Regions from separate parts of the Homo sapiens genome. Here region 2 is linked to region 1. The links come from fine-mapping of genetic effects on gene expression. A gene starts in region 1. The other region holds a variant in brackets. All regions are shown on one strand. Distances are from middle to middle. Region 1 holds the start of RIMBP2 (RIMS binding protein 2). Region 2 overlaps RIMBP2 (RIMS binding protein 2).

What was found.
Region 2: its variant is fine-mapped to the expression of RIMBP2 in B cells (Fairfax 2012, PIP 0.92).

Annotation. Positions count from the first base shown.
Region 1 is chr12:130,708,595-130,724,459 of GRCh38, reverse strand. It overlaps RIMBP2 (RIMS binding protein 2), which reads left to right and starts at 8,161. Exons shown (of 23, transcript NM_001393629.1): 1 at 8,161-8,238.
Region 2 is chr12:130,483,409-130,499,273 of GRCh38, reverse strand. All of the region lies in intron 4 of RIMBP2 (RIMS binding protein 2), which reads left to right. Among named protein-coding and RNA genes, the nearest start is that of PIWIL1, 150 kb to the right of the region's middle. The variant C/T (reference allele first, on the strand shown) is at 7,216.

The DNA.
Region 1 (15,865 bases):
CTATTTGGATGCCCTTTATTTCTTTCTCTTGCCTGATTGCTTTGGCTAGGAATTCCAGTACTATGTTGGATAGGAGTAGTGAGAGAGGGTATCCTTGTGCTGGTTTGTCTTGTGCTGGTTTTCAAGGGGAATGCTTCCAGATTTTGCCCATTCAGTTTGATGTTGGCTGTGAGCTTGTCATAGATGGCTCTTATTATTTTGAGGTATGTTTCTTCAATACCTAGTTTATTGAGAGTTTTTAACATGAATGAATATTGAATTTTATTGAAAGCCTTTTCTGTGTCTATTGAGATAATCACATGGTTTTTGTCTTTAGTTCTGTTTATGTGATGAATCATATTTAGTGATTTGTGTGTGTTGAAACAACCTTGCATCCCAGTGATGAAGCCTACTTGATCATGGTGGATTAGCTTTTTGATGTGCTGCTGGATTTGGTTTGCAAGTATTTTGTTGAGGATTTTTGCATTAATGTTCATCAAGGGTATTGGCCTGAAGTTTTCTTTTTTTGTTTCTGTTTCTGTCAGGTTTTGGTATCGTGATGATGCTGTCCTCATAGAATGAGTTGGGGAAGAGTCCCTCCTGCTCAATTTTTTGGAATAGTTTCTGTAGGAATAGTAGCAGCTCTTCTTTGTACACCTAGTAGAATTTGGCTGTAAATCCATCAGGTCCTGGGCTTTTTTTGGTTGGTAGGCTATTTATTACTGATTTAATAAATCAGAGCTCATTATTGGTCTGTTCAGGGAATCCATTTCTTCCTGGTTGAGTCTTGGGAGGGTGTATGTGTCCAGGAATTTATCTGTCTCTTCTCAGTTTTCTAGTTTGTGCACATAGAGTTGTTCATAGTAGTTTCTGATGGTTATTTTTATTTCTGTGGTATCAGTGGTAATATACCCTTTGTCATTTATAATTGTATTTATTGGACCTTCTCTCTTCCTTTTTATTAGTCTAGCTATTGGCCTATCTACCTTACTTATTTTTTCAAAAAACCAACTCCTGGATTAGCTGATGTTTTGATTTGTGTATGTGTGTGTGTGTGTGTCTTGATTTCCTTCAGTTCAGCTCTGATTTTTGTTATTTCTTATCTTCTGCTAGCTTTGGGGTTGATTTGTTCTTGTTTCTCTAACTCTTTCAGTTGTGATGTTAGGTTGTTAATTTGAGATTTTTCTAACTTTTTGATGTTATGAATACTTTTAGTGCTATGAATTTCCCTCTTAACACTGCATTAGCTGTGTCCCCAACATTCTGGTATGTTTATGTTTGTTTGCATTAGTTTCAAAAATAACTTCTTGATTTCTGCCCTAATTTTATTATTTACCCAAAAGTCATTCAGGAGCACGTTTTTAAAATTTCCATGTAATTGCATGGTTTTGAGCAATTTTTTTAGTCTTGACTTCTATTTTTATTGTGATGTGGCTTCAGAGTGTGTTTGGTGTGACTTCAGTTCTTTTGAATTTGTTGAAGATTGTTTTATGTCTAGTTATGTCATTGATATATGCCATGTGGCAATAAGAATAATGTATATTCTGTTGTTTTGGGGTGGAGAGTTCTGTAGAGGTCTATCAGATCCATTTGGTCCAATGTTGAGTTCAGGTCCGGAATATCTTTGTTAATTTTCTGCCTTGATGGTCTGTCTAATACTGTCAGTAGAGTGTTGAAGTCTTCTACTATTATTGTATGGCAGTCTATGTCTCTTTGTAGGTCTCTAAGAACTTGCTTTATGGATCTGGGTGCTCCTGTGTTGGGTGCATGTGTTCTTAGGATAGTTAGGTCTTCTTGTTGAATTAAACACTTTACCATTATGTACTGTTGCCTTTTTTGATCTTTGTTGGTTTGAAGTAGGTTTTTCTGAAATTAGGATTGCAACCATTGCTTTTTTTTCTGTTTTTAATTTGCTTGGTAGATTTTCCTCCATCCCTTTATTTTGAGCCTATGGGTGTCATTATGTGTGAGATGGGTCTCTTGAAGACAGCATACCATCGAGTCTTGCTTTTTTATACAACTTGCCATTCTGTGCCTTTTAGATGGGGCATGTGGCCCATTTACGTTCAAGGTTAGTATTGATATGTGTGGATTCAATCCTGTCATTGTGTTGTTAGCTACTTATTATGCTGGCTTGTGTGTGGTTGCTTTATAGCAACACTGGTCTGTGTGTTTAAGTGTGTTTTTGTATCAGCTGGTAGTGGTCTTTCCTTTCTATATTTAGTGCCCTTTTCAAGGTCTCTCATAAGGCAGGTCTGGTGGTAAATTCCCTCAACATCTGCTTATCTGAAGAGGATCTTATTTCTCCTTTGCTTAGGAAGCTTAGTTTGGTTGGATATGAAAATCTTGGTTGAAGATTTTTTTTTCTTTAAGAATGTTAAATATAGGCCCCCAATCTCTTGTGGCTTGTAGGGCTTCAGCTGAGAGGTCCACTGTTAGCCTGATGGGGTTCCCTTTGTGGGTGACCTGCCCTTTCTCTCTAGCTGCCTAAAAAAGACATTTAAGCCTTCAATAATAACTTTAAAAAGCCAATTTTGATCATCATGCTAGAGGAAAGAGTTTTCTTTCTGTTCTCTCAAAAGAAAACAAAATTATAAAATCATTGTCATCTGGAGAAGTAATCAAAGATTACACAAATAGTGTTAAAAACAAATATTATACAAATATTATAAGGTGATAGGTAGCCCAATTACCCTGATTTTATTTTTATACTTACATGAATGCATCAAATTAGCACATGTACCCCTAAATTATGTACATTTATCATATATCAATAAAATTGATATTATAGTAGAGTCTTAGGCAGTTAATTACAATAAATATATGCTATTTTTCTGGATTTTGTGATATTTGTGGGATTTGTCAACATTTTAACATCTGGAATTTGTTGTGATTTATTTTCTTATTCTCGATAAATGATCATTTGTGTATTTTGTATTGGTGTTCTTTGTGTTTTATTTTTCTTAACTAGGGCTCTCCACATTATATAAACTCCAGGCCCCACAAAATTGGACCCACAACTGAATCTGAAATATGTGTTGCAAATATGTTATCTCAGTTGTAGCAAATCTTTTGGTTTTATTTGTGGCATTTTCCCACTGTGCAGAAGTTTACATTTCCACGTAATCAGATTTAATCAGCATTTCCTTTTATTGTTCCTGAGTTTTCTTAGAAAGTCCTTCTTCATTTGACAATAATGAAAAAAATTCATAAGTTTTCTAGAATGTCTAATTTTTCTTTTATATGTTTGAATACTTGATTTATCTGGAATTAACTTATGTGTAAGAACTTTTTCCCTTAATTATCCTGTATTCTGACAATTATTTATTGAGTATTCTATATTTTCTTATTGATTAGAAATACTATTTTATCATATATTAAATTCTCATATGTAATTGGATTTGTTTATGGACCACCCAGTTTGTTCTATGGGTCTGTCTGTTCATGTACCATGACAAAACAATTTTATTTATATATTTATAATATATTTTAATGTCTGGTAAAACTAGTTTTCTTTCATTACTTTTTCTTGCCTTCAATAAAATGTCTGGGTTATACTTTTGTGCTTATATTTCCATACTAAGTTTAGAATCAGCTTCCAGAGGTCTGGAAAAAAATCTCGGCTTTATGTTGATTGTAATCATATTAAATGTTAAGGTTGATTTCAGGAGAATTTTATAAAATTTAAGGACCCTCTCCAAGTGTGGGGTTGGCTTTTCTTTTTGCTCCATTTTTCTTTTATTTTTTCCTCAGTTTTCTTCATATATATCTTACACATTTCTAGGCATGCCTTTCTTTTTGTATGCTATTATAAATGGAATTTTTTTCCCCTTCCATTATACTTCCTAACTGATTATTGCTTTTATATAGGAAACCTATTGACTTTTGTATATTATTTTTGTTCCTCCAAAATAATATGCAATAATATACAAATATATATTTGCTGGGAACCTAAAATAATACACTATTCTATTCAATTATGGAATATATCTAGAGCTCTCCTTTTTTTTTTTTTTTTTTGAGACAGGGTCTTGCTCTGTCACCCAGGCTGGAGTGCAGTGGTGTGATCATGGCTCACTGCGACCTTCACCTCCTGGGCTCAGGTGATCCTCCCACCTCAGCCCCCGAGTAGCTGGGACTACAGACATGAGGCATCACACCTGGCTAATTTTTTGTATTTTTCATAGAGACAGGCTTTTACCATGTTGCCCAGGCTGGTCTCAAATTCCAGAGCTCAAGTGGTCCTCCCGTCTCAGCCTCCCAAAGTGTTGGGATTACAGGTATAAGCCACCACGCCAGACCTATTCTATCCTCTCCTATTCAATTCTTATTTGTAACAGTTTTTCTGTGATTGGTTCATCTGGGTTTCCAGGTAGATCATCATGTCATCTCCAATACTGCCTAGTTTTTAGACCTTTCTGACTACCCTACTACTTGTAAACAGGGCAGGTTTTTCCGAGAGATGTTCCTAGCTGAGTGCTGCACTTATGGTGAACACCCAGCTTCAAAGGCTACTTGAAAGGATTTAGGGGGCTGCACTTACCCACCGGCCTTGGAATTGGCCTCATAGAAAACTTGCTGTGCTTTGTGGAAGCTCGGGCCCGCAGAGGTGCTGATGGTCAGTGTCAGCACAGACCTATTATTAGCTGTCCAGCGACAGGAGATTCCACTTTAATGCTGAAGCTTCAGAACTACGTTGCAAACAAAATGACTGGCATTTTCTCAGACAGCAGTTCCAAGTGGAAACTGTCTAGTTGTGCTGTCTCCATACGGAGGGCTGGAAAACTGTGAATGGCAATTATGCAGCTTTGCATCTCACACTTCCTGACATCTGGCAAACACTCGTTCCATCCAGGACCAGATAAAACAAATGGTGCCTTATTCACAGGAGTCTTTAACGGCCTAATAGACCCGATGAGTAGCAATGCCTTTGTGTGGCCTGTGTGCAGTCCAGAGCTAGCAGGTTGCCTATGACAAGCGCTGGAGGGGGTCAGCACTTTTGATTCCATCACCGAAACTGGTCCCCACCACAGCAGCTCATTTTTCAGAACTGGCTAGCTCCTTCCTGCTGGGTTGAATACATCCTCATTCTTCACAGGCCCAGAATGGCTTCATCTGGATTGTTAGTTACCTATGAAAGTCTCTGGTTTGTTACATTTTTTTCAGTATTTTATGCACAAAATTTACCTAATTTTTGTGAAGTTAGAACATGACACCAAGAAATGGAATCCTGTATTATTTTTCTTTTCTTTCCTTTTTTTCTTTTCTCTTTTTTTTTTTTTTTGAGGCAGAGTCTCACTCTGTCCCCCAGGCTGGGGTGCAGTGGAGCAATCATAGCTCATTGCAGCCTTGACCCCCCTGGGCTCAAGCCATCCTCCCACCTCAGCCTCCTGAGTAGCTGGGACCACAGCCGTGCACTACCATGCCCAGCTAAGTTTTGTATTTTTTGTAGAGATGGGGTCTCACTACGTTGTCCAGGCTGGTCTTGAACTACGAGGCTCAAGTGATCCTCCCACTCTGGCCTCCCAAAGTGCTAGGATTACAGGCATGAGCCACTGTGCCTGGCCCTGCATTCTTTCTATGATTTGACCATGTGTCTCTTGGCAGCTACAGTCAACTCTTTGGTCTCAAGTTGTCCAGCTGAAAAAGTGGGCTCCTCACGCCGAGACCCATGACATGCAGCCCCACACACATGGGATACTGCAGACGACAGTGCAGCCATGACAGAGACTCAGTGGGGCTGGTGCAGACAGCAATGGCCCTGTATGGGGAGAACCCAGCATCTTTGAATGGAAACATTTTTTGCAGCTTATTTGTTTTCGAACCTTGGCTTTTTGGCCTAAATGTTCCATGGCATTCCTTAACAATTAATTTCCTCTCTGCTGAGAAAACAAAGGTGGAGAGTCATTTTCATGCCACTGAATGACCTTTTAAAAGATTGAATCCTTTCTAAGGGGGAATAGCTTTATTTCCTTCTGTCAAATATTTCATTTGTCCCCTAGAAGAGCCCCGTGAAGTAGACATTATGTGATAAGCAGACACGATCGTTTTACAGATGTGGGAAAAGACTGACCTGCTCCAGGCCACACAGATGGAGTCAGGAAGGGGCAGACTGGGTCAGTGGGGCCCAATTCACAGGCACTTTCTACGGTCTTTTCATATGTTTTTATGGAGGTAAAGTTCACATCACATAAAATTAACCATTTTAAAGTAAACAATTCAGCGGCATTTAATACATTCACAGTCTTGTGCAACTGCCACCTCTCTCTTGTTCCAATGTGTTCTCACCACCCCAAAAGGAAACCCCACTCCAGTAAGGAGTCACTCCTCATCTCCTCTCCTCCTAGCCCTCAGCAACCACCAGTCTCCTTTCTGTCTCTATGAATTCGCCTATTTTGGATATTTCATAAAAATGGGCTCATACGATAGATGGGCTTTGTGTCTGGCTTCTTTCCCCAGCATGGTGCTCTCAAGGTCCATCCATGTGGTAGCAGGAATCACATACTCCATTCCTTTTTCCTGGCTGAATAATATTGCATTGTATGGATATGCCACATTTTGTTTCCCCATTCATCCATTGATGGGCACTTGTGTCATTTCTACCCTTTGGCTGTTGAGAGCAGCGCAGCTGTGAACATGTGTGTACGAGTATCTGGTAACCAGTCCCTTCCACGATTTTCTGCAGTCTTGTAGTTTCTGTGACCTGATAACTCTGCTGCAGGGTGAAAAGGAATCATCTGTGGTTTGCCACCTACTCCTGGATACAGCACGTATCTCTTTGTTCCATGCACAGAGGCTGGGGCCACTCTACACGGGGCTTGAAAGAAGCCTCCAGTCTTGCAGCCAAATTCAGAGGCATATAATTCAGAAGCCTATCCGGGAGGCCAAAATGAGTCCTGACTGGGAAAACTCGCTGGACCCGTCTGCCACAGTGTTGAAAAAGTTGTCTTGGGAAGAGGTTTCCTCTGGCTGTCTAGGTTTGAGACCTTTGCGATTCCTTTAAGATCACAAGCAAAACCACGGTGATGGTAGGATGTGTTGGTTTTACTAAGGAGCCCATTTTTTAAAAAACTTGTAAAGTGAGCCTTAATTGGAGAAGCAACAGAAAGCACCTCGGGACAAGTCCTTCCTTTTTGTACAAAGGACCCGTGGTGAGCCCTTCCTTGGAATTCTCGTGTCCTACACTCGAGTCTTGTCCCTGCACAGGGCCATCATTAGTAGGAGCCCTCAGAGCCTCAATTAGGGTATGTGGAGCCCAAAATACCAAAGGGGCTTTCCTCCGCATGAGCTATCTTATTCAGCACCTTTCAGTAACAAGCCATGGGATTTTTACCCCAGGGAAGGAAGCAAGTGTGTGAAGTCCGTGCGTGTTTCCCAGGGTTTTTTCCCTCCTGCACCACCCGGTTGCTAGGTAGCGGGTATATCTGTGCCACCACCTGAAGTTCTGTGGGAAGGGGGAATCTGCGGGGCCACTGGAGGCTTGGGGTGGGGAGGGGAGCCGGACAGGAGAGCAAAGACCCAGGCAGCTTGGGTCGCTCCTCTTCATCACTTAATTCTGAGGGCGCTTGAGTTTCTGAGCTTCCTGGAGTAGAGCCCAGGGCAGCTTTTACTTTGATGTGCTGATCGGTTGCCTGTCGGTTGCAGGAGACCCCCGGCCTCCTGCAGGGAAGATCCTGTGCTGTTTTCCCAGGGATGGAGAGAAAAGCACCAACCCCAAGCCCCGCATGGCTGAGAGCTGTTTGCCTCCATCTCTGTCCGAGCTTTTCACCACAGCTCTGTGAAAGAAACTGGCAGTGAGGGGTATAGCCATCTTGGTGTGTGTATGCGCACGTGTGTGTGCATGTGTATTTGTGTGTGTGTGTGTGTGCGTTCAAACACTGACGTTTCAGAGGCTCTGGTTACTGCTGCATGGCGGATGATCCTCTCTCTCTCCCTCTCTCTCCCTCCCTCTCTCCCTCTCGACCTGCTTGCCTGCCTGCAGAAAACTAATGAATCATGTCTAGCTGAATGCAAGCAGTGCAGACACACCAATGCCCTGCAATGTTGACTGGGCGCCGCCTCTGCCTGCCTCTCGCTCCCTGTCTCTCCCTCTGCTGCTCCCTCCCTCCCTCTCTCCCTCTCCCCCTCCTCCCTCCCTCCTTCTCTCCCTCTCCCCCTCCTCCCTCCCTCCGTCTCGCCCCCAGTTTGTAATCTGACACAGTACACTGCAGTTGTCTCCGAGGTGAACCTCCGGAGCCTTGGCACAGCTCGCTTCTAAAGGTAGGCTGAGATTTATTTTTTTCTCCTAAAAATAGCTTCCCGTCTCCCCTCGCCTTTCTGCACCCGAGCTGCAGCGGCGTTGATCACAGGGGGTTAGCCGGAAACTCTTTGCCCAGACAAAGTTTATCTTGCAGCGGATGGAGAATGCCCTTCAGCGTGGGGTCCGGGGGCGCTGGGTGCGGGGAGCAGCGGCTCGCCCTGCTGGCATGTCGGTGCTGCTTGGAATTCAGGATCGTCTCGGAAGGGAAGGGCTGACGGGCTTCTTCCTGGGTGCCGGGTGTCAGCTGCAGGGGTGCTGTGGCTCTGTCATGGCCCCCACCCCAGGCTTTTAAGAAAGGCCCCTCCAGGCAAAGTTTGGCACCCGATGGACACGGCCCCGCTCGCCTGGGGAGTGCGCCCCAGGCTTCTCAGACAGCAGCGGCTCAGGGCCTGGACTTGTCTTCTTGGGGGCGGGGTGGAGGGGGGGAAGGGGACGTGGGACAAACACATCAGAGTCCCCAGCTCGGCTCAGGTGCAAATGCACAAAGCCCGCAGGCTGCGCCCAGGAATCTGTCAATTCACGTCCCATGGACTGACTTGAATAATGTGTTTGTCAAAACAGATGTTCCCCGGCAGAGTGTGTGCGTGCATGCGTGTGCCTGTGTGAGCAGTGTGCGCGGGCTGCTGGCCGGGGGCAGACTCTCCCAGTGGAAACCGTATTTCACCGGGAAAGGCAGCGCGTACGGGACCACCCGCCCAGGAGCTTAGGTCTGGGTAGGTCCAGGTGGGGGCCCGGACATCTGTCAGCAGAGGCCTCGGTGGAAGCAGCCTCCCTCCTGTCCCCGGGGAGCGCACGCTGGCTGAGGTCGGGGTGGCGGCTGGCCGGAGGGAGGGAGGACTGCTTCACCTCCCGGCCTGGTCACTGGCCCCGGGGGAGGCGGGGGTGCTGGCTCCGTGCCTGCGTGGCCTCTGGGTCCCTGGAGGTTCTTAGGGTGAGTGAGGAGGGAGGGAAGGGGACCCTGTCCAGCCCCATATTTCTCTCACGGAGGAGCCCTGAAGGAGACTCTGCTCACAAGGGTGAAAACCCCACTTCGTCCAGGGAAGGGAAATGTCACAGATGGAGCAGGCCTGAGAGGAGGGAGAGCGGCTCCCTCTGAAAATGGAAGATCGGTGGGAAGAGGAGGTGTCCGGGCTCTGGGCCCTGCGGCAGGCCAGGCTGCTGGGCTCTGAGCAGGAGTGGGCAGGGGAGGGGAGCTGGCGTGCAGGCTCACTCACCCGGTTTCTAAGGGGAACAGTGGGGGAAGGCTCTAAAAAATCACCACCTCCCCCACGCACATGGCCCCTCCCTGGCTCCCTCCCAGCCTTGCTGGGCTGTCCGGGAATCAGCTTCAGACTCATCCCCCGCTGGGCTGTGGGGTCTTGGCTTGTCCTGTGAGACATGATCCCAAGCTCCCAGTGGGATGGGCAGGGTCTGACCGGCTCCGGAGGTTCCCTGGGGGCACGGTGTGAGGGGAAGGCCGGCGGGCACCCCTTCTGCAGTGGGGGGTGGTGGGGCGTGCCTGGGGTCGAGGGCTGTGCCGTGGCCATATGGCAGCCGCCTGGGGCCCAGAGTGGAGCCCTTCCAGGTTATTTCAGGGAAGGCGCTGGCAGCGGCTATTCCCCCGTGCCCCTTCCTAGAGGATGGCAAACTGGGTCAGGGAGAGGGTGGCACTGCCCACGTGCCCGGGAGACAGGAAGATGCTGGCGCTATGGGGGCCGCCCCCCACGCAGGAGGCAGGCGCCACGCAGCCCTCCCCGGGGCATAGCAGCCGGCCTCCCCCATGCTGCAAGCCCGGCAGAGAACCCCAAGCCTGCAGAGTCCGGGGGTGGGCGTGGGTGGTGGAGAAGCCTCCCAGGTGAGGCCAGCGTGCAGCCGGGCTGAGAGCTCCTGGCCATGAAGATGAAAAGACAAGCGGTGGGCCCTACACTGTAGCTTTCAGTTTCATCTCTTTGGCCCCATGCACTGTTGGCGCCTGGAAGAGACCAGCATGTGCTCAGGGGGCGGGAGGAGAGGCAGGAGCTGGCTCTTTCCTGAGCTTGCTTCGCTTTCCATTTCAAATCCACCCCCTGCCACGTTTGTATTTTTGGAGTCTGGTTGAAGTTTTAATTGGAGCAGCGATTCTCACACGTTGGTGAGCGCTGGCATCCTGGCGGGTGGGTTAAGGGGCTACAAATCTCAGAACCTCTGATCCAGCAGGTCTGGGGAGGAGCCGGGAATCCGCATTCCCACGCAGTCCCAGGGGAGGTGGAGGCATCCAGGGACCCCACTTTGAGGATCCTTGAATACAGCGTGACCAGGAGGCGCTTTACGCATCTCTGGGGCATGTTGCCAGCTCTCTGTTGGCCTTTGGCTGAGGTCATACATGAAGCTGAGTGCACGCCTCATAGGTTGGTCTAGACCCGCAAGTGCCAAACCTCAGGGACCAGAGGGCCTGACCCGGGAGCTTCCTTTGTGTCCGGGAGTCTCCCTAGGGCACGGCAATGAGCATCTGTTCCAGGTGGGCGGAGACTTGCCGGCTGAACGTCTCAGTGTTTCCCACTTCTGCCCCAAGGTTTGGAATCCGCGTGGTGCTGGGAACCCGGGGGAGAACCGGATCGGCTGTGCTGGTCTCTTGTTGATCAAGCAGAGCTGCTGATTCCAGAAAACTCTGTTCTCCACTTACCTCATCCCGTGTAGATAGTGGTAGTGCATGGCTTATGTCCTCAGTTTCTCTTTTGACTTTCACCCATTTGAAAAGCTGTCTGATCCCCTATGGTGTGGGAGGAGGCTTGCAACCAGCTGAGGACACCTGCATCTCTTGTTGGTGATGCTGGTGCCACCACCCTTGTGTGCAAAGGGCAACCAGCTGAGGACACCTGCATCTCTTGTTGGTGATGCTGGTGCCACCACCCTTGTGTGCAAAGGTTTCACTGAACCATACTCCTCAGTCCTTCCTTCCTTCCTTCCTTCCTTCCTTCCTTCCTTCCTTCCTTCCTTCCTTCCTTCCTTCCTATCTTCCTTCCTTCCTTCCTTCTTTCCTTCCTTCCTTCTTCTCTCACTCTTTTATTCCGTTTCTTTCAGTCTCTGTCCCCTTCTTCCCTCTCTTTCTCTCCTTTTCTCTCCCTCTTTGTTTTTTCTTTCCTTTTCTCTCAGTCTCCCTCCCTCCCTCATTCCTCCTCTCCCTCTCTCAGTCTCTCTCTCTGACTCACCCCTGCTTGTGTCCACCACTGGGCCACGCTCCTGTGTGGATCCATCTTTCCTTGAAGAAAATCTCCCAGATGACGCCCTGCATAAGAAGGACATTTCCATCAGTGAAGACCATGCGTACTGCGGTGGCTGTGCGATTAGAACAGACCTGAAAGATCCCCATCCCAGTGTGGCTGTCGTAGCTGCTCAGCTTGAAGCTTTAGTCTCACGTGTTTAGTGACGATGGTGTGGGTGAACCCACTGTGCTGCCTGGAGTGTGAACGTCCAGCACATACAGTCATGCATGGACATGATGCTCGATGATAATAAATGACTATGTTACTGGCTTATGGATTTACTGTAACTTTTATCATGATTTTAGAGTGTATTGTTTCTACTTATTAAACAAAAGTGAGCTGTGGAACAGCCTCCGGCAGGTCCTTCAGGAGGGATCCGACAGCAGGCATGGCCATCGTGGGAGGCGACGGCACACCTTGTGTTATTCCCCTGGAGACCTCCCAGCGGGACAGGACGTGCAGGTGGAAGGCGGTGATGTGATGATGCTGGCCCCGGGGAGGCCTAGGTGAACGTGTGTGTTTATGTCTTAGCTTTTAACAGCAAAGTTTAAAAAGCAAACAAACAAAAAAATCAAATAGGGAAAAGCAAATAGATGAGGATATAAAGAAAGAAATTATTTTTGTACAGCTGTACAATGTGTGTTTTAAGCTAAGTATTATTACAAAAGAGTCCAAAAGGTAAAAAATTAAGAAATGTATAAGGCAACGAAGTAAGCTGAGGGCAGTTATGGAAGAAAGAAGAATATTTTTGTATAAATTTAGCGTAGTCTAAACGTGCAGCCTCTGTAGGGTCTACAGACACGTACAGGAATGCCTGGGCCCTCACGTCCACTCCTCACTCACTCACTCACCCACCCAGAGTCACTTCCAGTCCCGCAAGCTCCATTCATGCTAAGCGCCCTATACAGGTGCACCATGCTTTATCTTTTAGATCTTACTTCCGCTGCCTCTCTTCTATGATTAGATGCAGAAGTACTCACCATTGTGTGGCAGTGGCCTACAGTACTCAGTACAGTCACGGGCTGCACAGCTGTGAAACCGGAAGCAATGGGCTTGCCCATCGAGCCAGGGCGTGGAGGAGGCTGTGCGGCCCGGGCGTGTGTGCAGTGTACCTGTGTGTGAGGTGCGCTCAGTGACGAAATCACCTAATGAGGCATTTCTCCGAACGCATCCTTGTTAAGCAAGGCGTGACTGCATTTATCTTTGAACAAGCCAGTCACACTGTACTAGGGTTTGTGGGGTTAGAAGTATTCATTTATGAGGTGGGTCCCTGAAAAGTAACATTTAATCTAAATCTATTTTAACTTTTTTGTGGTTATTTTCATATGTGTGAGAAGCAAATGCATCTGTAATGAGAAACCTTCACACAATATAAACTTTAAGTCCAAATGACGTCCTAAGTAAATCACTCCAAATAGCATCTTCAAAAAATGGAGAAAAAAGACAAAGCACACTCATTTTAAAAGCCCAGAATAATCTTGATACAAAACCCCAGTGAGGCCATCAGAAGGAAGAACATGTGCTGGCCAAACTCTCATGGTCACAGACACCACATTCTAAGTCAAGTATTAGTAAATTAGAAAATGGAATCCAGCAAAACGTGAAAAGGGTAATAGACATTTCTTAATTTTTCCCTGGACAAGGAACCTCAGAAAATGGAGGAAATTGGGGCTTCTCTGGATTTGTGAGAGGCTGGATAGCTTCTTTTTTTTTCTTTTGAGACAGAGTCTTGCTCTGTCACCCAGGCTGGAATGCAGTGTCATGATCTCAGCTCACTGCAGCCTCCGCCTCCTGGGCTCAAGCGATTCTCCTGCCTCAGCCTCCTGAGTAGCTAGGATTACAGGCGTGGGCTACCACGCCCGGCTAAGTTTTGTATTTTTAATAGAGATGGGATTACGCCATGTTGACCAGGCTGGTCTTGAACTCCTGACCTCAGGCGATTTGCCCACCTTGGCCTCCCAAAATGCTAGGATTACAGGCATGAGCCACTGTGCCTGGTCAGATAGCCTCTTCTTAATGCTCACCTACACGAGAAAGGGAGGTGGCTGTCAGGGCTCCATGGGACCCCACGTGTGACGTGCGGGGCCTGTGAGGATTGGGAGCAGTGGGGCTTGTGGAGGAGCAGGTAGAGCAGGGAGAGGCCTGAAGACGTCCATTTGGGATATTCTCATTTGTTGGTGTTTTGTGGTCTGTCATTAGTAGGTGCTGGATAAGCACTTGCTGGAGAGACCCAGTGTGGGAGATGAGGGGGGCTCTCTCCTTGGCCTAGCTGTGTGGACAGGTCCTTCCTGTTGGTGCTGAGCCTGGGGCGGGGGAGGTGCAGCACCTGCCACTTCTCTATCTGTGTGGGACCCAGGAAGGCAGGGCATGACCTATTCATTCAGCAAACCTTTAAGCACCTGCTAAATACTGACTCACATTTTAGGTGAGCAGTGAACAAGCTAGAGGAGGGTGCTGCCCTCATGGGGAGCACACATGTGTGTGTGTACGTGTGTGTGTGTATGTGTGTGTGTGCGCCTGCGTGTATGTGTGTGTGTGCATGTGTAAGACAACGGGCAAGTGAATGAATAATCACTACACCAGAGACAGCTGCCCTGATGGAGTGCCCAGCAGAGGGTTCCAATGGCTGATGTCAGGGGCCGCACCTGGATGATCTGGGAGGGTCTCAGGGAGGAGGTGGCGTTGAAGCTGAGACAGGACCCTGAGAAGGAGCCAGAGGTGCAGACACCTGGGAGAGAGGTTCAGGCCCCGAGGGCAGAGGGAGGAATGGATCTGCGAGCTGCTCGGTGGCTTTGATTCTCATAGGTATGTGCAGAAATTGCTCCTTGGGTGTTTTTGGAGCAGCTGGGACCACAGGGGCTGCAGAGCCAACCCCTCTCCTGGAGACCCTCGGTGTCCACCCGTGAGCTCCCAGGGATACCCGGAAACCAGGGGGCCAGTGGTGTACTTTTTGTCATTTCCATCCATGGGGAGTTGGTCATGGTGTCCCTTTGGGTGGAAGGTCCTCCTTGCCCCTCCTATGCCTCTTACCGCGCTCCTTCCCCTGCCTCCCTCCTGCCCAGTGCTACCAAAAAGAAAGCCCATTTGGCCATTTTGGCAGCAGGGGCCTCCTGAGGGGGCCTGGGGGTGCGTTGGTACAGGTTCCTCTGATTAAACGCTCCTGGTGCCACACCCAGTGTGTGTCCGCGATGGGAATGTCAGGAACGGGCCGCTGGGTTGGGTGGGAAGGGGGGGGGTTTCCTCAAGGCATTCTTCATGCTTATTACCGACGTGGTTTCCAAGAGCAGGAACACACCCCATCACGCTGCCCCTGTACCTCCTTGGACGGAGATATTGGGACGGGGGCAACAGGCAGCTTTGTTTCCGACTCTTCCTTCCCTCTCCCTGAGAGGGGAGCCCCAAAATCTTGGGAAACGTGCCTTGACTCAGCTCCAGGTCTGTAAAGCGCTCCATGTTCAAGGGCCAAGGGCTCGAGCTGCGTGTTGACTCCTTAGCCTGGAGCTGCCCCGCAGGCTGCGGGTGCCAGAGCTCTGCTGTCGGGCGTCACGCCCAGAGACCTGCCCCAGCCCCAGCTGTGGTGTGGGTTCTGCGTCTTCAGCCTGTGGCTGAGTCCCCAGTGCCCAGCGAGTGGCTGAGACCTGGCTGGGGCTCAATAATTGTCTCTGTGGGAAGGGTGGATGCAGCGAATGGCAGTTGGGGCCCCGGGAGGGCCATGCCTCTGTCCAGACAGTTCCCCAGCTTCCTTCCTGCTTGTCCCCAAGCCCACCAGCCCTGGTGACTGCCTCCTGCATCGTGGCTTCTGGATCGTGAGAATTAAAGATGGGAAGTTGTGTAAACAGCTTTTCCAGCTCAAATGCAGCAATGCATCGGACTGCTGTTGCCGGCACGTTGCTGGGTGCCTTCCTCGGTTACATGCATGACACAGCCCTTCTGCGGCAGGCCCTGTTGCTCATGTAGACCCATTTTACAGATGAGACAATAGTCTTTGAGAGATGGAGGGGCTCTCTGAAGATCACACAGCTGGGGAGAGATGGGCCCAGTTTCAAACCCGGGCTGCCTGACCGCGAAGCTGGGTTGGGACTACAGCGCTGCAGGACCTGTGAGATCCCAGAGAAGCTGGGGCGGAGCCGGTTCTGGGTCAGATGCAGTCCCAGGGAGCTCTGAAACACGCCTGTGTCCAGGGCCCACGCGAGCCTCTTAGAGAAGGTGCAGTGAGCTGGGGCGCAGGTATAACAGTATTTTCAAAGCAGCTTTATTTCACTAATTTGTTTTTTTGAGACAGGGTCTCACTGTGTCGCCCAGGCTGGAGTGCAGTGGCATAATCCCGGTTCACTGCAGCCTCGACCTACAGGCTGAGGTGATCCTC
Region 2 (15,865 bases), 230 kb after region 1:
CCCAAATCTCATGTTGAATTGTAGTTCTCAATGTTGGGGAAGAGACCTGGTGGGAGATGATTGGATCATGGGGGCAGATTTCTCCCTTGCTGTTGTGATGGTGAGTGAGTTCTCACAAGATCTGTTGGTTTAAAAGTGTGTAGCCCCTCCTGCTTCATGCTCTTTCCTGTTGCCATGTGAAGATGTGCCTGCGTTTCCTTTGCCTTCCACTGTAATTGTAAGTTTCCTGAGGTTTCCCCAGCCATGCCTCCTGTACAGCTTGAGGAACTGTGAGTCAGTTAAACCTCTTTTCTTCACAAATTACTCAGTTTTAGGTATGTCTTTATAGCAGTGTGAGAATGGACTAATGCAACCCCAAAATTGAGTGGCTGAGATTAGTGATTTGTGTTGATGTCTCATGGCTGTGTGGGTTGACTGGGCAGCTACATGGTTCTCACGTGGGGCCTCCACTTGGGTAGTTACGCTCAGATGGCAACTGAAGTTGCAATCATCTGCAGCCTTGGCTGGCTCTTTGCCTGCATGTTGTCCTCTCCTGGGATGGCTGGAAGAGAGGGGGCAGGCCAGACATTTCTCTCCTCATGTGGCCTCTCCACAGGCTAGCTCGGATTTCCTGCACTGAGTGTTTTTTTTTTTTTTTTTTGAATGCTGTTTCCCTCAGCACTTTGTATTTCTGATTCCTGGCTTATTGGGTCTCAGTTTCATGTTGCTTTCGTGGCCACCTGGTCTAAAGGACCAGAGGCCCCCTTGCTGGTCACTTGCACATCACTGGGTTCCATTTCTTCAGCGCACTCATCTTGTCTGCTTTAACTGTCTGCCTGTGTATTTGTCTTCCCTACCAAAATGTAACATCCTCAAGACAGCCTTTGTTCTAGTGCCCAGCACAAAATCTGGCATATAGTAGACACTCGATAAATACTGATTGATTGATGAATTAGTAACGGAGCAAGTGCACGCATGAATGAGTGAGGGGTTGACAGATTGCCTCGCTGAACCGACCGGCACTGCAGACACTTGCTGCCTTCATGGAGAATGACTAAGCAGCCAGAGGCCTGGAGTCAGTGCTGCCTTCATGGAGAATGACTGGGCAGCCGGAGGCCTGGAGTCAGTGCTGCCTTCATGGAGAATGACGGGGCAGCCGGAGGCCTGGAGTCAGTGCTGCCTTCATGGAGAATGACCGAGCAGCAGGAGGCCTGGAGTCAGGGTGCTTCTCTGCAGAGGTGCTTCTCTGGGGCTCACAGGTGACTGTATAAAGTCACATCTACAGATCAATCTGCAGTTCCTTTCTGGAATAGACAGAGACTCTCCAAGGGGAATAAACACAGGAGAGTTGGTGATTTCCGGCATCTCCTCAGCCCAGGCTGGTGTCAGACAAGGATCTCCCCACCGCGCACTCCTTGTTGCATTTAACCCAGAGTCAGTCCTCCTCTTAGGTCCTGGCACAGGAGTCTGATCAAAACACCCAGCACTCCTCTGAAGCAGGGTGCCTGTCAGAAGTGAGTGCATTGTGATAAAATAAACAAAATGCTTTTTATTCTCCAGCTTCTCAGATTCAAATAAAAAACGCATTGGGCTTTTTTACTCACTGCAAAAAAACAAAACAAAAAAAGCCTCATGTGTTTTTCATGTGAGTTTCTACTGCCTGATACACAAGACATTCTGGGTCCTCAGCCTCTCCCCAGCTCCTGGGTAAAGGGACTGCAACCGGTGGTGCTTCGCTCACAGCCACGGCCAGAACGCATCTCTCCAGCCCCTTCTCCCATGGCCCGTGAGACAGTTCTGTTCGTCGGATGCGGTAGAGCGACAGCTGCTTTTATTTTAGAGTCCTGGCAGGGAAGGACGGTTTAACTTCACACTCACAAGGTTTCTAGATTCAGAGAGCTCAATCTAGAAGCAGTTAGAGGCAGGGACTGGTGGACCCACCAGAGGCTGTGAGCAGAATCAGTGATTACGGAGCCCAGGGAGCAGAAGGCAGGTGAGAAGCTTCTGGACAGAGGGGTAGATTCAATCAGCCTCCCCACAGTCATGTCCACCCAGAACTGGGGCGCGGGGCCTAATTTGGAAATAGTGTGTTTGGAGATGTAACTAGGTGAAGGTGCGGTCGCACATCAGGGAGGGCCCTCGTTCAGTGACAGGCTTTGGAAAGAAAGGAGAGGGGAGTTTGGATAGAGACACAGACGCTCAGGGAGGAAGCCACGTGTGGATGGAGGCAGAGATCAGAGCCATGGAGCGCCCAGGAGCCTGGCAAGATGGGGAAGAGCCTGCCCTGGAGCTTTCGGAGGGTACATGGCCCTGTCCACACCTCGACTGAAGACTTCCGGCCTCCAGGGCATGAGAGGATGGGTTGCTGTTGTTTTAAGCCCCCAGTGTATACACATCCCAGTCTCTCTGTACTCTGCTCAGTGACATCGGGGCAGTCATGGTCTGATGGCCTGGGCAGAACAACTTGAGGGTCCCACTCCTCAGGGAGAGGACAGCAGTCCCAGTGTGCAGAGAAGTGTGCGGTCCTCCTTGGCTCCTCTGGGTGGCCTGCAGGTGAGAGAAAGGTGTGCCTGAAGGAGGCCATCACAGGCAGGAAACCATCATGTGGTCACTTTCTGGGGAGCGGGCCTGCCCAGCGCCATAGCTGCTGGGGGCCCGACATAGAAGGGGGCTCAGGGTGATGGGAACGTGGCCTTTCATGAGGTATCACTGTGTGCTGGTCTCCCGTGGACAGAAGCATCCCTCCTGCAGGAAGTGGATGGAGCCTCACCCCTCGCAGCCTCCTCTACCCCAGAGCTGCTCAGCAGGGCTGCTGAGACCGGAGTGAGGACAGTGAGATGGTGGTTTAGTCCTTTTTCATGCTGCTAATAAAGACATACTCGAGACTGGGTAATTTATACAGGAAAGAGGTTTAATGGACTCACCATTCTATGTGGCTGGGGAGGCCTCACAATCATGGTGGTAGGTGAAAGTCATGTGTCACGTGGGAGCAGGCAAGAGAAGAGAAGGGAATGAGAATCAAGAGAAAGGGGTTTCCACTGATAAAACCTTCAGATCTTGTGAGATTTATTAACTACCACAGAACAGTGTGGGGGACACCGCCCCCATGATCCAATTATCTCCCACCAGGTCCCTCCCACAAGACATGGGAATTACTGGAGTTACTATTCAAGATGAGATTTGGGTGGGGCACAGCCAAACCGTATCACATGGCTACAGGCACGGACGTACTCTCTGCCGTGGTCCACAATGCTTTACAGTTTAGGTCCAATGAGTCAGCGGCAGAATCATCACCCACCCTAGGGGGACGTTCCCGTTGATCTCAGTAGCATGACCTAATTCAAAGACTTTGGGCTTTTAGTTAGACCAGTCTGAGTTCAAATTTGAATTTGATGATTAACTAGTTGTTTACGTGTGATCAAGCTAACTAATTTCTGAGAACCGGGGTGTTCTCTCATCTTTAAAGTGGCCATAAAGTACCTTTCTAGATGTAAGGGTTCAAAGCATAGAATGTGCCCAGTGATCTAACATAGTGGCTGGTGCTGGAGAGGTTAGTGATCAAGAATTGCTAATACCGTGAGCAATTTCATTGATATACACCCTCAAAGGAATCTACTAGAATAGACAGAAGGATAGCCAGGTACCATGCCAGATGCTTGGAGTAAAACGAGGAGCAAGTCCAAGGTTATTTTTGTTTTCATGAAACTTACCTTCTACTGGGGTGGGAGGAGCTCAGAAAAAAAATCAGGTCATCCAGCAAATAGATAAGAATTTCAGAGACGGAGGAAGACGGTGATGAGCCAGGGTGACCTGGAGGGAGAGGGGAGCGCAGGGCACCCTGCACATGTCTGTTAGGGGGTGACACTTCAGCTGAGGCCCACGTGATGACAGTGGCCTGACCAAGCAACATCCCTGGGGAAATCTCACAGGGGCAAGAGGAGACAACGGGCAGCACTGAGGCGGGAGCCACTAGGGCATGTACCAGCGTGGCTGATGGCTTGGTCTGGGGCAGGTGTCCAGAGGCATGAATCCAGGCAGATGGGGAGCAAGTGAAGCAGCCCCCCTCATCATTTCAGGGCATGTAGAGGGCCAGCTGTGTTCCCCCAAATGACGCCCAAGTCCTAAATCTATGTATCTGTGAATATGACCTTATTTGAAAATGAGTCTGTCCAGATGTCATTAATATAAGGTCATCTTGGAGTAGGGCAGGCCCTAAACCCAAGGACTGTTGTCCTTATAAGAAGAAGAGGCACAGAGACACCCAAGGGGATGGGAGTGAGGTGTCTTCTGGTCAAAGATCACCAAGCATCGTGGCCACGCCAGCAGCTGGAGCGGGGCATGGGGCGGCTTCTCCCTCAGAGGTTCCACGAGAGGATCCGGCCCTGCCGACACCTGGATTTCAGCCTTCTGTGCTCCAGGGCTGTGAGAGGACACTTTCCATTGTCTTAAGCAGAAGTGCCAGTTGTGGTACTTTGTGACCCAGCGGTCACAAATGCATCCTTTTCCCACATAAGGCCAAGTGCTCTGGACAGCAGGGAAGAGGGTGTGTCCTGAGTAACCAGCACACAGGGCTGGAGTGCAGGGTCCTGGAGGCCTCCGTGGGTTACCTGACTCCTACTTTGCTCTTTCTTTTCTTTTCTTTCTTTTTTTTTTTTTGAGACAGGGTTTCACTCTGTTGCCCAGGCTGGAGTGCAGTGGGGCAATCTCAGTTCACTGCAAACTCTGCCTCCTGGGTTCAAGCGATTCTCCCTCTTCAGCTTCCTGAGTAGCTGGGATTACAGGTGCCTGCCACCATGCCTGGCTAATTTTTGTATTTTGAGTAGAGACGGGGTTTCAGCATGTTGGCCAGGCTGGTCTCGAACTCTTGACCTCGGGTGATCTGCCTGCCTTGGCCTCCTAAAGTGCTGGGATTACAGGTATGAGCCACTGTGCTTTGCATCTTTCAAAGCACGTTTGCATCCACCATCTTACCGTGAGACTGTGGAGGCGGGGGCAGAGCAGTGCAGGGAGAACCGTGGTGGCGGGGAGGTGCCAACTTCTAGGCCTGATGCTTGCTGGGGTGTGGAGTGGGCTCCAGGAGGGCCAGGGCGGGGTCTGTCCTTCTGAACCGCTCTGTCCCTGTCCCCAGCGCAGTGATACAGAATGAGCGCTCTGTCCCAGAGTGTGGGATGTACTCACAAGGGGCTGAGTCATCTCCGTGAGCCTCAGTTTACCCATGCATCACAAGCTTGCATTTTTATATCCTCACCCGATCAACGCTTGTCTTTCCCACTGGGATGTCAGCCCCACACAAGCCAGGGCCTCTCAGCTTTGTGTCCACTGTGTCTCCAGTGCCTGTCGGGCCACCTGGACGTAGTTGGTGCTCAGGAAACACTGGACAGAGGAGAGAAACAGAAAGGGCGGATATCCGGGTAAATGTAACAGGCTAGACCAGGCTGTTTTTCTCCTGGTAGACTCTTTCATGTACATAAATGACACTTCAACGAAAATGTAGAACACTGTGATGGGGTTTCAGGTATATAGATGGAGCATGTAAGAATTCCACTTGGAATGGCAAGTTTTAATTCTGAGTAGATTGTTTAAATTTAAATATGTATATTGAGTTCCCTGGGGCAACCACTAGGAGTGACATAAAAACATACAGAACAGCACTCCATGGAGACATTAAAATTGAAAACCAGGCTGGGCATGGTGGCTCCCGCCTGGAATCCCAGCACTTTGGGAGGTTGAGGCAGGCAGATCACCTGAGGTCAGGAGTTTGAGACCAGCCTGGCCAACATGCTGAAACCCCGTCTCTACTAAAAATACAAAAATTAACCAGGCGTGGTGGTACACGCCTGTAATCCCAGCTACTCAGGAAGCTGAAGCATGAGAATTGCTTGAACTCAGGAGGTGGAGGTTGCAGTGAGCCGAGATCACGCCATTGCACTCCAGCCTGGGCAACAGAGCGAGATTCCATCTCAAAAACAAAACAAAACGAACAAAAAGAAACAACAAAAAACAAAAAGAAGGCAGGAAAGGGGAGATCAAATAATGAAAATGGGAGGGAACTAACAGAAGCCAAATCGAGTGGCAGACCTAAATAAAACTTAGTGATATTTACATGAAACTTAATTCCTGTGCAGGTCACTTTGTTTTTTTGTTTTGTTTTGGTTTTTTGAGCTACGATCTCACTCTCTCACCCAGGCTGGAGTGCAGTGCGTTATCTAGGCTCACTGCAGCCTCCGCCTCCTGCGCCCAAGCCATCCTCCTGCCTGAGCCCCAGTCCCCTGAATAGCTGGGACTACAGGTGTTTGCCACCACATTTGGCTAATTTTTTGTATTTTTAGCAGATATGGGGTTTTGCCATATTGCCTAGGCTGGTCTCAAACTTCTGGACTCAAGCAATCCACCCGCCTCGGCCTCCCAAAGTGCTGGGATTACAGGCGTGAGCTGCCGCACCTGGTTCTGTGCAGATCCCTTTGAATCTAACATTTAATCTCATTCTTGCGACAACCTAGGAAGGACGGTATTTTTTGTTGCCATTCAATAAACGTGGAACCTGAGGTTCAGAGAGGTACCTAACTCACCCCAGGGCACACAGCCTGTACGTGTTGGAAATGGCATTGAACACAGGTCCAGCTGATAAGATCCCCTCTACTTGGCTGGCCAAAATCCCGGGCTCACAGCCGGGAGCCACTGGGGCAGGACAGAAACTGTGTGTGAGAAAAATAACCCTCCCAAAGCAGCATGGATGAATGTTGCCACCCCTGCATCTCTAGGATTCATCAGGGCCAGAGGAGAAGGAAGGAGGCTTTAGGATCAAAGACCAATCAACACTCAGGAAAATCTTTCTCTCTCTCTCTCTCTTTTTTTTTCCCCCAAAGGAACTCCTAAGGATCCATTTTTTTTCCCAGTTTGAGAAACTAAAATACTTGGGCTGAAATAGACCTCACTGAATTCACATGAATGTTTTTCACACACATTCTCATTCTTAATGAGTGTGACTTCTGTGACTAGGACAGACAGTCGTGATGCCATGAAAACAAACAGCTTTAAAGACCTTGTCTTTCTTGCTTTTGAAGACGTGGGTTCTGTGAGTGCTTGCATTCCTTCTGCCAGGTGCTGGGTGAAAGCAAATCGTGTGTACATAAATGCTTCATTATTTCTACCACGCGTAGCAGATCCCACTAATGTGACATTCAAAGTGTCACCGTTAGCTCCTATTTGGGGAAATTGGTTTTTCCTTAATTTCTT[C/T]GCTCAGGCAAGGCAGCATCCAAGCACAGGACAAGTCCACGTTTGATCTGACGTTGAGGAGATAATTCAGTTTGCTTCAGGTTCGTTCGTTCCGTGTCACATCCGAGCTTTTCCCTGGGATAGCGGCACCCTGACATTTGTAGGCAGCTTAAGTGCTGGCGTGAATGTCGACAGTCAGCTATAAATATCGCTGCTTTAAAAATAAATCCTGCCACAGGCAGAGCGTTTCAGACAGGCAGTTTTGGCCGTGGCGCATAATCCTGAGTACTTTTCAGATGTGAAGCCTTCCCATGAATGACAGCACGTGCCCTGGGAAGGTCTCTGCGCGGGGAGGCGGAAGCCCGGTGTCAGGGTGTGGTGGGATTCTGTCTCTGGGCGAAACCCGAGGTTTTCAGACTCCCTTTGGGAATCCTTGGGCCCCTTGCACTCCCAGGAACCGAGAGACTCCTAGCTGCTTGTGGAAGTTGTGAGAAGGAAAGTGCGATTGCCCCCCAGAAGTGCAGATGGCTCTGTGACAGAGGCACGAACAGTGTGCGTGGTGGCCTGAGAACTCTGGAAGGAAGGAGGCGGAGTGACTTCAGGGCACTGCAGAAAAGGTTCTCATGTGTACTGCCTTGAAGAGAGTCCCAGCAAACATCAGCACATCCCGCAAATATGAGAGAGGTCCTGGAGGAGGCCTCTTAGACAGCAGAGAGCAGAGACAGTGGAGGGAGAGTGAGCTGGGCTCGCTAGGTGCAAATCCTGGCTTGAGCCTGGCCTAGCTGGGCAAACTTGAACACGTTGCTTAACCGCTCTGGGCCTTGGTTTCCTTCTCTGTAAATGGGAATAAAAATATCACCTGCTTCAAGCGTTGTTGTGCCGATTAAATGGGTGATGTGTGTTCAGTACTTAGCATAACAGTACTTCTAGAACTTAGTAATCCTCAGATGTGTTTAGGTGAGCATGTGGAGGCTGATGTCTGGAGCTGGGCTGGGTCTCAGGCAGGTTCTCTGGGAAAACTGTGCCAGCAATGTGCATACCGGAATAAGAACACCATTTTCCCACCATTTGTAGGTGGTGATCTGTGATAAACACTAACGTGGGTTTTGATTGTTGCTACACACAGGGGGCTCGGGAGCTGCTGTGTAGACCGCTTCCCACTTCGCTCCCCACCCTCCCACTGAACTCTGACCACATCTCCCTCTTTTATGGTGTGGCTGAGTTCCGGGGTGAGTTGGCATTTGGCCTCTCTTTTAGTCCTGTGGACTGGCCGGTAAGCCGAGGGGTTTACTGCAGCCCCCACTTGGCCGATTCTGTTGCTGAACTCACAGGTCTCAGCCTTCACACCACAGGTGCCCTGCAGACGAGATTATTTTCCTTGAATAAGGTTGTTTATGGCCAGTGACTTTTATCTTAAGATGTTGTTTCCTGGCCCTTGGAGAGAAATGGCAGCTGGAACTTACCGAACCTGCCTTTGCCCCGTGATGTTATAACTCTTGAGGTAAACCAAGCACCTCTATCTTCACCCCCATCTCCCTGTACCCCGATTTATACTTCTGCTGCTGATTCATTAAAGTAGCTATCAGCCCGGGATTGTCTGACAGCTGGGACCAGAACAAGCTTTCCTAGTTGGGAAGAAGCATCAAAACCATTTATTTTTTAATAGGAAAATTTCAAGCAAACTAAGGGATAGTAAAAAATCCAAGCTAAATTGTAGATAAGTAAACAAAAACATTATCAGATTGTACATTTTCCTGGACAGATTTATTTTCTGCTTTGTAGGTGGTCAGCAAAATCAACATTTCCGTGAGTTTTTTTTTTAACTTAGAATTGTCACAGTAAGTCTGTGAAGCAGGTTTGAGTCCAGTTGCAACAACTCAAGTGAAAGAAACAGAACAACCCCCTCAACATTACTTAATTCACTTTTCTTTTTTATCTTTTTTTTTTTTTTTTTTTGAGACAGAGTCTCGCTCTGTCACCCAGGCTGGAGTGCAGTGGTGCAGTCTCGGCTCACTGCAACCTCCGCCTCCCGGGTTCAAGCGATTCTCTTGCCTCAGCCTCCCGAATAGCTGGAACTACAGGTGCCTGCCACCATGCCTGGCTAATTTTTTGTATTTTAGTAGAGACGGGGTTTCACCATGTTGGCCAGGATGGTCTCGATCTCCTGACCTTGTGATCCACCCTCCTTGGCCTCCCAAAGTGCTTAATTCACTTTTAAGACACGCATTTTGAAAGAGTGATAGAAATGTGTCATCAATTTGGAGTTGGCTTCATCCTTTTCCTTCAGTCTACCGGTCAGACTTCAGTCAAAAAGCAGGAGCCAGCCAAGGTATTTCAAATGGAGGGACATTAATACAGGGGATTGTGACACACAGGGTGGAAGAACTAAGAAGCCAGATGGCTGCATTGTGAACCTGGCATCACCTCTAAGGCTGAAGGGACAGTGGGGGTGATGATGATCTCAGAGTCAGGAGCAGAGACCGTGGGTTAGAGACAGGAGATGGAGCCTCTACAGGAGACGGAGCCTCTACAGGAGACAGCTCGAGAGGCAGAGAGAGGGGTAGAAATCCCTGGCTTCCCTCCCGCCGATGCTGCCTGTTGACTGACCACCCAGAAGCAGAGGGCGAGGGCGTCTGGGAAGTGTAGCTCTTTCTGATACAGAGCAAAACAAGAGAAGGAGAGAGAGTAGATCTGAGAGACCTGAGGCAGTTGATTGGCACACCAAGGTGAGATCTAGGCTGGGGTGCAGGGTGACCCAAAGCCAAGATGTTGTGGGATTCCATCCTGCCCTCATCCAGGCGTACACACACAGATTCCCACCATTCTATCCGATGCGTATTGCTTATATGTAGGCTGTAAAAGTAGACAAGCCACCGTCTACCAGTTGTTTCCATTATTTCAGAGACAAGGGTAAAAGTTACTTGAAGACATTGTAAAATATAAGACATGAAAGAATTTAATTGTTTAGTTGTATGCATTCACGTGGGCTCTTAGCTATCCCAGGGTCGTTCAGAAATCCCTGCCAGGCTGTTTAAGCTCCATTTTCTCAACTCCCCATGCTAGCCGTGAATTCTGTAGGAGTCAGCTCTCTGGAACTTTCCAGAAAGCAGAGCCAAGAGCCCATCCACCAGTGTCTATACATGCATCGGTTCTTCTCAGCTAATTTGTCTGCCTCTGGTGAAGCAATATATTTCTGCAGATTAGAAGGGAAATCTAGTCTCAGTTTCTCACAGTAACCCCTCTGTATGCTGTCTTCTTGATTCCCCTTATCTCTGCAGACCAAAGCCCAGGGGAGTCCCCAGTTTCTGCTCTTCCCTGACCCATCTCTCATCCTCCCTGAGGCAGTGAGCATGGAATGGAGCCCTCAGGATGGGAAGTGGGAGGGGAATGGAGGAGAAATAGAGGGTTAGTGATAGAAAGAAACATTGATTAATATCTCAGCCTTGCAACACTGATTTTTCTATAGATGTTTCAACAGAGACATGCACACTGGCTACATTTAGAAAAGTAACGCTGTGCAGAATGAATCAGTATGTCCTCATGCCAGGATGGATGGATATATTTAGCATGTCCGTGTGTTTGTGAGCCTTGTCCATTTCTCTTTTTTTTGGCTGGTTCGTAGACCTCACTAATATTAAACTTACGGCCCCCACCACCCCCTGACTGAGCTATCTTTTCCCCTACCATCCACCTAACACCACGAATTTCAGCCTTTGCAGCCAATATCTCTCCTATTTTTGGCTTAAACTTTTTTTTCGCCATCCACTTCACTCTACCCTCATCAGTCTCAAAGCCCATCTCCGAGAGATGTTTTATTATAGCTGCGTGACTAACTCCGCCAGTGTGATGGCCTCCAGGAGAACCAGCTTATGTCTCTGGTTCACAGTTTTGACTGTGGGTTTGGTGAAATGTGGAATCTTTGGTAGTGAGGATCCAATCTTCTCTAGGCTCCTCAAGTGTTAAAGTCTAGTTTCTAGACAGCCACAGGATGAATCCTCCACTCAAAATCATTGCTTTAATTCCACTTAGAAAATGTTAATTAGACTCCTGTTGCCTGTGGAGTGCACACACGGAAATGGAGCCATTTCTAGTCCAGTTGAGAAAGTGAGAATTACATGGAATTAGAACGGTACCAAGCAGGTTACAGCATTGCTGCAGAGTCATGTGGGAGGCTGTGAGGGATGGAGAGGGGAGTGTGGGCTGGGGGCGTGGGACAGATGTTTTAGGCGAGAGGCCTCACCTTTGCTGTCATTGATTCTGCCTCACCATGTGTCAGAGACTGTTCTGGGCCGGGGGTGCACCAGTAGACAGGGAAACAAGTCCTGTGATCCTGTGGTTCTCATGGACAAGGGTAGGGAGTGGGATGGAAAGGATGACATAGAATAAACACGTAAATAAAATAATCTCTGGTCACTGGTCAGGACACTTGCCATGTCTTTGTCCGTTTTGTGTTGTTATAAAGAAATACCTGAGACTGGGTATTTTGTAAAGAAAAGAAGCGAATTTATCTCACAGTTCTGCAGGCTGTACAAGCATGGCACCAGCATCTGCTCAGCTTCTGGTGAGGCCTCAGGAAGCTTCCAAACATGGCAGAAGGCAAAGTGGGAGCAGGTGCATCACATGGTGAGAAAGGTAGCAAGAGACAGGGAGGAGGAGCCAGGCTCCCTTAAACAACCAGCTCTCGAGTGAACTCAGAGCAAGAACTCACTTATCGCTATGGGGAGGGCACCAAGCTATTCATGAGGGCTATGCCCCCGTGACCCAGACACCTCCCACCAGGCCCCACCTCCAACACAGGGGTCACATTTCAACCTGAGGTTTGGAGGGAACACATCCTAAACCCCATCACGCCGTGAAGGGCTGGCCACGTGGTGATGCAGGGACAAGCATGTCGGACAGCAGGAATGGCACTCGCTAAGACCTGGAGTTGGGGATGACCTTGACGTGATCATGGAACTGAGCGAAGCCAGTGTGGCAAAAGCACAGTGAGGAAGGGGCAGAGGTGAGAGGTGAGGGCAGAGAAGAGGCTGGATCACAGAGGAGCCTGTTGGCTGCAGCCAGGAGTCTGGATTTTGTTCCCGGTGCAGTTGGCAGCCTTTGTGCTCTTGAAGGAGAATGGCTGTGGGGCAATCTCTGGTGCAGCCAGTGGCTCTGGAGGAGCTGTCTCGGGGCAGAAAGGGCTCTGAGGAGCTGGTTATGGTCCAGGGGAGAGGAGGAGCTGTCTCGGGGCAGAAAGGGCTCTTCTGCCGTAGTCTACCATAGTCTAGGGGAGAGATGAGGTGGCAGCGTTGGACACAGGAGAGAACGGCAGACATGGGTGGGGGGAGTTTGGGTGCACATTTTTTTAAATTGGGAGGTTTTTTTTTTTCTCAAAGATCTGGATGTTGAACAAGGCGGGAAAGGGGGCAGGAAGTCAAGAATGACTGTCAGCTTTGCATCTGGAGGAGCTGAGGGGATGATGGTGTCCTTGGCCGAGATGGCACAGCTTGGGGAGGGAACTTGTTTGAGGAAGAAAATCAAGAATTCTATTTCGGACAGGCTAAATTTGAGCTTCCTCCTGTACATCCATGTGGGGATAATGAGTAGGCAGTTGGGTATGAGTGGCGGGGGGGCGGGGGACGGGGATGAAGGGTTCATTTGGAATTATGTGGCAATTAAAACCTCAAAGCTGGCTAAGATCACCTAAGGAATGGTATAAATAGAGCCGTGGCCCCTCCAGGATTTAGAGATCAGCGGGAGGTCATTGCAGAGGTCAGGGGGAGAGACCAGGTCAGCGCGCCCCACGGGGGCCAGAGTCCAGGGCATGTCCAGGAGGAGCAGCCCTGGTGTCGGGTGCTGCTGAGGGATTTGGTCCAGTCAGGGCACGAAAGTGGCCATGGGTTCGGGCTGCAGGGACTCCTCGGCTGCCTTAGTGGGAGAATCTCAGCCGAGTGACAGGAGGGAGGCTGACTGGAAGGGCTGGAAGAGCGTGTGAGATGGGAGGCAGATACATGGGCAGTGGCTGGAGGGGGATGAGGGCTTTGCAGAAACAGGTAAGATTTGGAGAGATAGATGCTGAAGCCAAAACAAGCCCCAGCAAACCTTGTCCTCCCAGCCATGGCATCTGTGATGAAACTGAGGCTGTCTTCGAGGGCCGAGTGCTTCTCCCGCTCACGCCTTTCTGACAGCTGCTTTGTACGGACTTGGTTCATTAACCGTAGAAATGCAAAGACTTCTTCCCTGTACTTGTTTCCATCCATCTGATCTATAAACCCTCATCTCACTGGCACCCCGAAGCAAGAGCCCAGCATAGCATCCGCCACCCCTTTATCCTCAGTGACTCTGAGGCCGCAGGACCACGCCCGGAGCTGTTTCGGTGCCTGGTGAATCTACCTAGCGAGTCCTGGTAGGGAAGGTGGCACCCTCCTCTCGCTAACAACTTCCTTCCCAGAACTAAATAAAGATGATACAGTCTGCCTTTGGCAGTGCCCCCTTCCAAAATAAAGAGAAGCACAAAATTAGCCAGAATTAAGCCAAAATGGCAGAATTAAGCAGCTGCACAATCGGCCACCCAGGCCAGGTGGGCCGCGAGGAAGTCGAAAGCTGCTTCTCTGCCCTGGCCCCCGTAGTGCTCCAAGATGGCAGTGGCTGGTGTAAGTCATCTCAACCCAGAAGTGGGGCAGTGGCCGGGAGCAGACTGGCTGTGAGTTCTGACATTCTCATCGGCCATGTTCCAGCTGTGGCTTTTAGCCCTTGCTCAGCTTCCCTGAGTCTGTTGCTCTGCTGGGATGCAGTGACCACAGCACCCAACCCTCAGCCTCAAATGACACAGTGCCTGGGCAAGCATAGTGCCCTGCATATAGTAGGTGCTTAATAAATGACAGCAGCCACATTCCGATTTCTCACCGTCATTTTACCAATGCGGCGGTAGCTGTCCATCATCCTGTTGGTGCAGCCCTGGTTGCCTCATGAGTCCCTCCCTCCCACCCTGTACCTGGTGTTTAAGTGACATCACACAGGGCTACACACGTCCAGTGGGAAAGGGTTTTCTCCTCTTGGGACTAAAACATAACACAGAGAACTTAATAGATGCCAAGGAAAATTCAAAACACCTCTATGAAGTGGGTGTTAATTAATAATCAACATTAGTTATTTCACTAATCACTAACCAATTGAAAAAGAATAGTGTTGAAAAATTAATCCAAAAGAAGAACATGGAGAACAGAGAGGTTAAGTAACTACTCTAAGACCACACAGCGGGCCAGTATCAGAGCTGGGATTTGAGCCCAGGTGTTCAGGCTCTTTAATGGCTTTTGCTGGCCTGAAATGCTGGAAGCACTTTTCCCCCAACCTTCCCTGCCAGCCCCTGATGTGGGCAGCGTGGAGAGCTCCAGGGGCTGGGAGGAGGCCCATGTGGCTGGAGAAGGGGGTGGTGGGGACAGCAGTGGGACTGAGCTCCAAGAGGCCATGAAGGCGGCAGTTTGATTATTTGGCATCTGTGCCGAGTGACCCATTGTGGGGACAGGGACACAGTGGGGCAAGGTGCCTGCTCATGTTCCAGGGGAAGGAGCAGATAGCAGGCAAGGGAGCCGGCCAGTGCACTGGGGATGAGGATGCTCAGGAGGAAAATAAGGCAGGTGGAGAACATGGTGTATCCAGGAGGGGCCGGGCGGCCACCAGGCTTCAGTGCGAAGTGGCATCTGGGCAAAGGCTGGAACGTGAGAGTCAGGCTAGCAGGGAGAGCAACACGTGTGAAGGTCCAGAGGCGGGCACTGGTCTGCTCTTTAGAAACAGCGCGAAAGCCAGGGTGTTACAGCAGGGCATGAGAGGCAGGCAGATGGTGGTGGCAGCGGCATCAGGAGGCAAGAGGCAGTCAGGTGGCCCTGTGACAGCATGCCGCTTTACTCCCCACCGAGGGGCTTTCAGCTGGGATGCGACATGGGGCCAGGGGTCCACTTCGGGGGGCATCGGGCTCCTTCCGGCCAAGGACACCTAAGTGACAGTCGCCGGCAGACTCTGGAGAGATGTTTCGCCTCCAGTCTATCCTTCCCATGGGACATTGTCCATGCCAGCAAGCCAGTGCCTGGGGGAACTTCTGGGGCCTTTCCAGGAGCCGCGGAAGCCCTCGCAGCCCCTGTTAGTGGCATGGCTCAGGGACACATCTAGGCGGGGACAGGGGCTCCGGGCACCGTGTCTAGGTGGGGACGGGGGCTCCGGGCACTGTGTGTAGGTGAGGGTGGGGGCTCCGGGCACCGTGTGTAGGTGAGGGTCGGGGCTCCGGGCACCGTATCTAGGTGGGGACGGGGGCTCCGGGCACTGTGTGTAGGTGAGGGATGGGGGCTCCGGGCACTGTGTCTAGGTGGGGACGGGGGCTCTGGGCACTGTGTGTAGGTGAGGGATGGGGGCTCCGGGCACTGTGTCTAGGTGGGGACGGGGGCTCTGGGCACTGTGTGTAGGTGAGGGTGGGGGCTCTGGGCACTGTGTATCCCGCCTTCCACCCACAGCCGCGTGGGGCTCTGTCTCTGGTGTGAGCCTTTGTTTAGCACCATCTTGGTGGGGGGCTTCCTTGGCCTTCTCAGCCGACAGGCCAGCCCCCAGCAGGACTGCAGCTCCCATCCCCTTTGTTTATAAAAAGTAAAAGTATATTTTTAGCAGTTTATTTTTTCTGTTTCTCCCCTTTTATTTATTTATT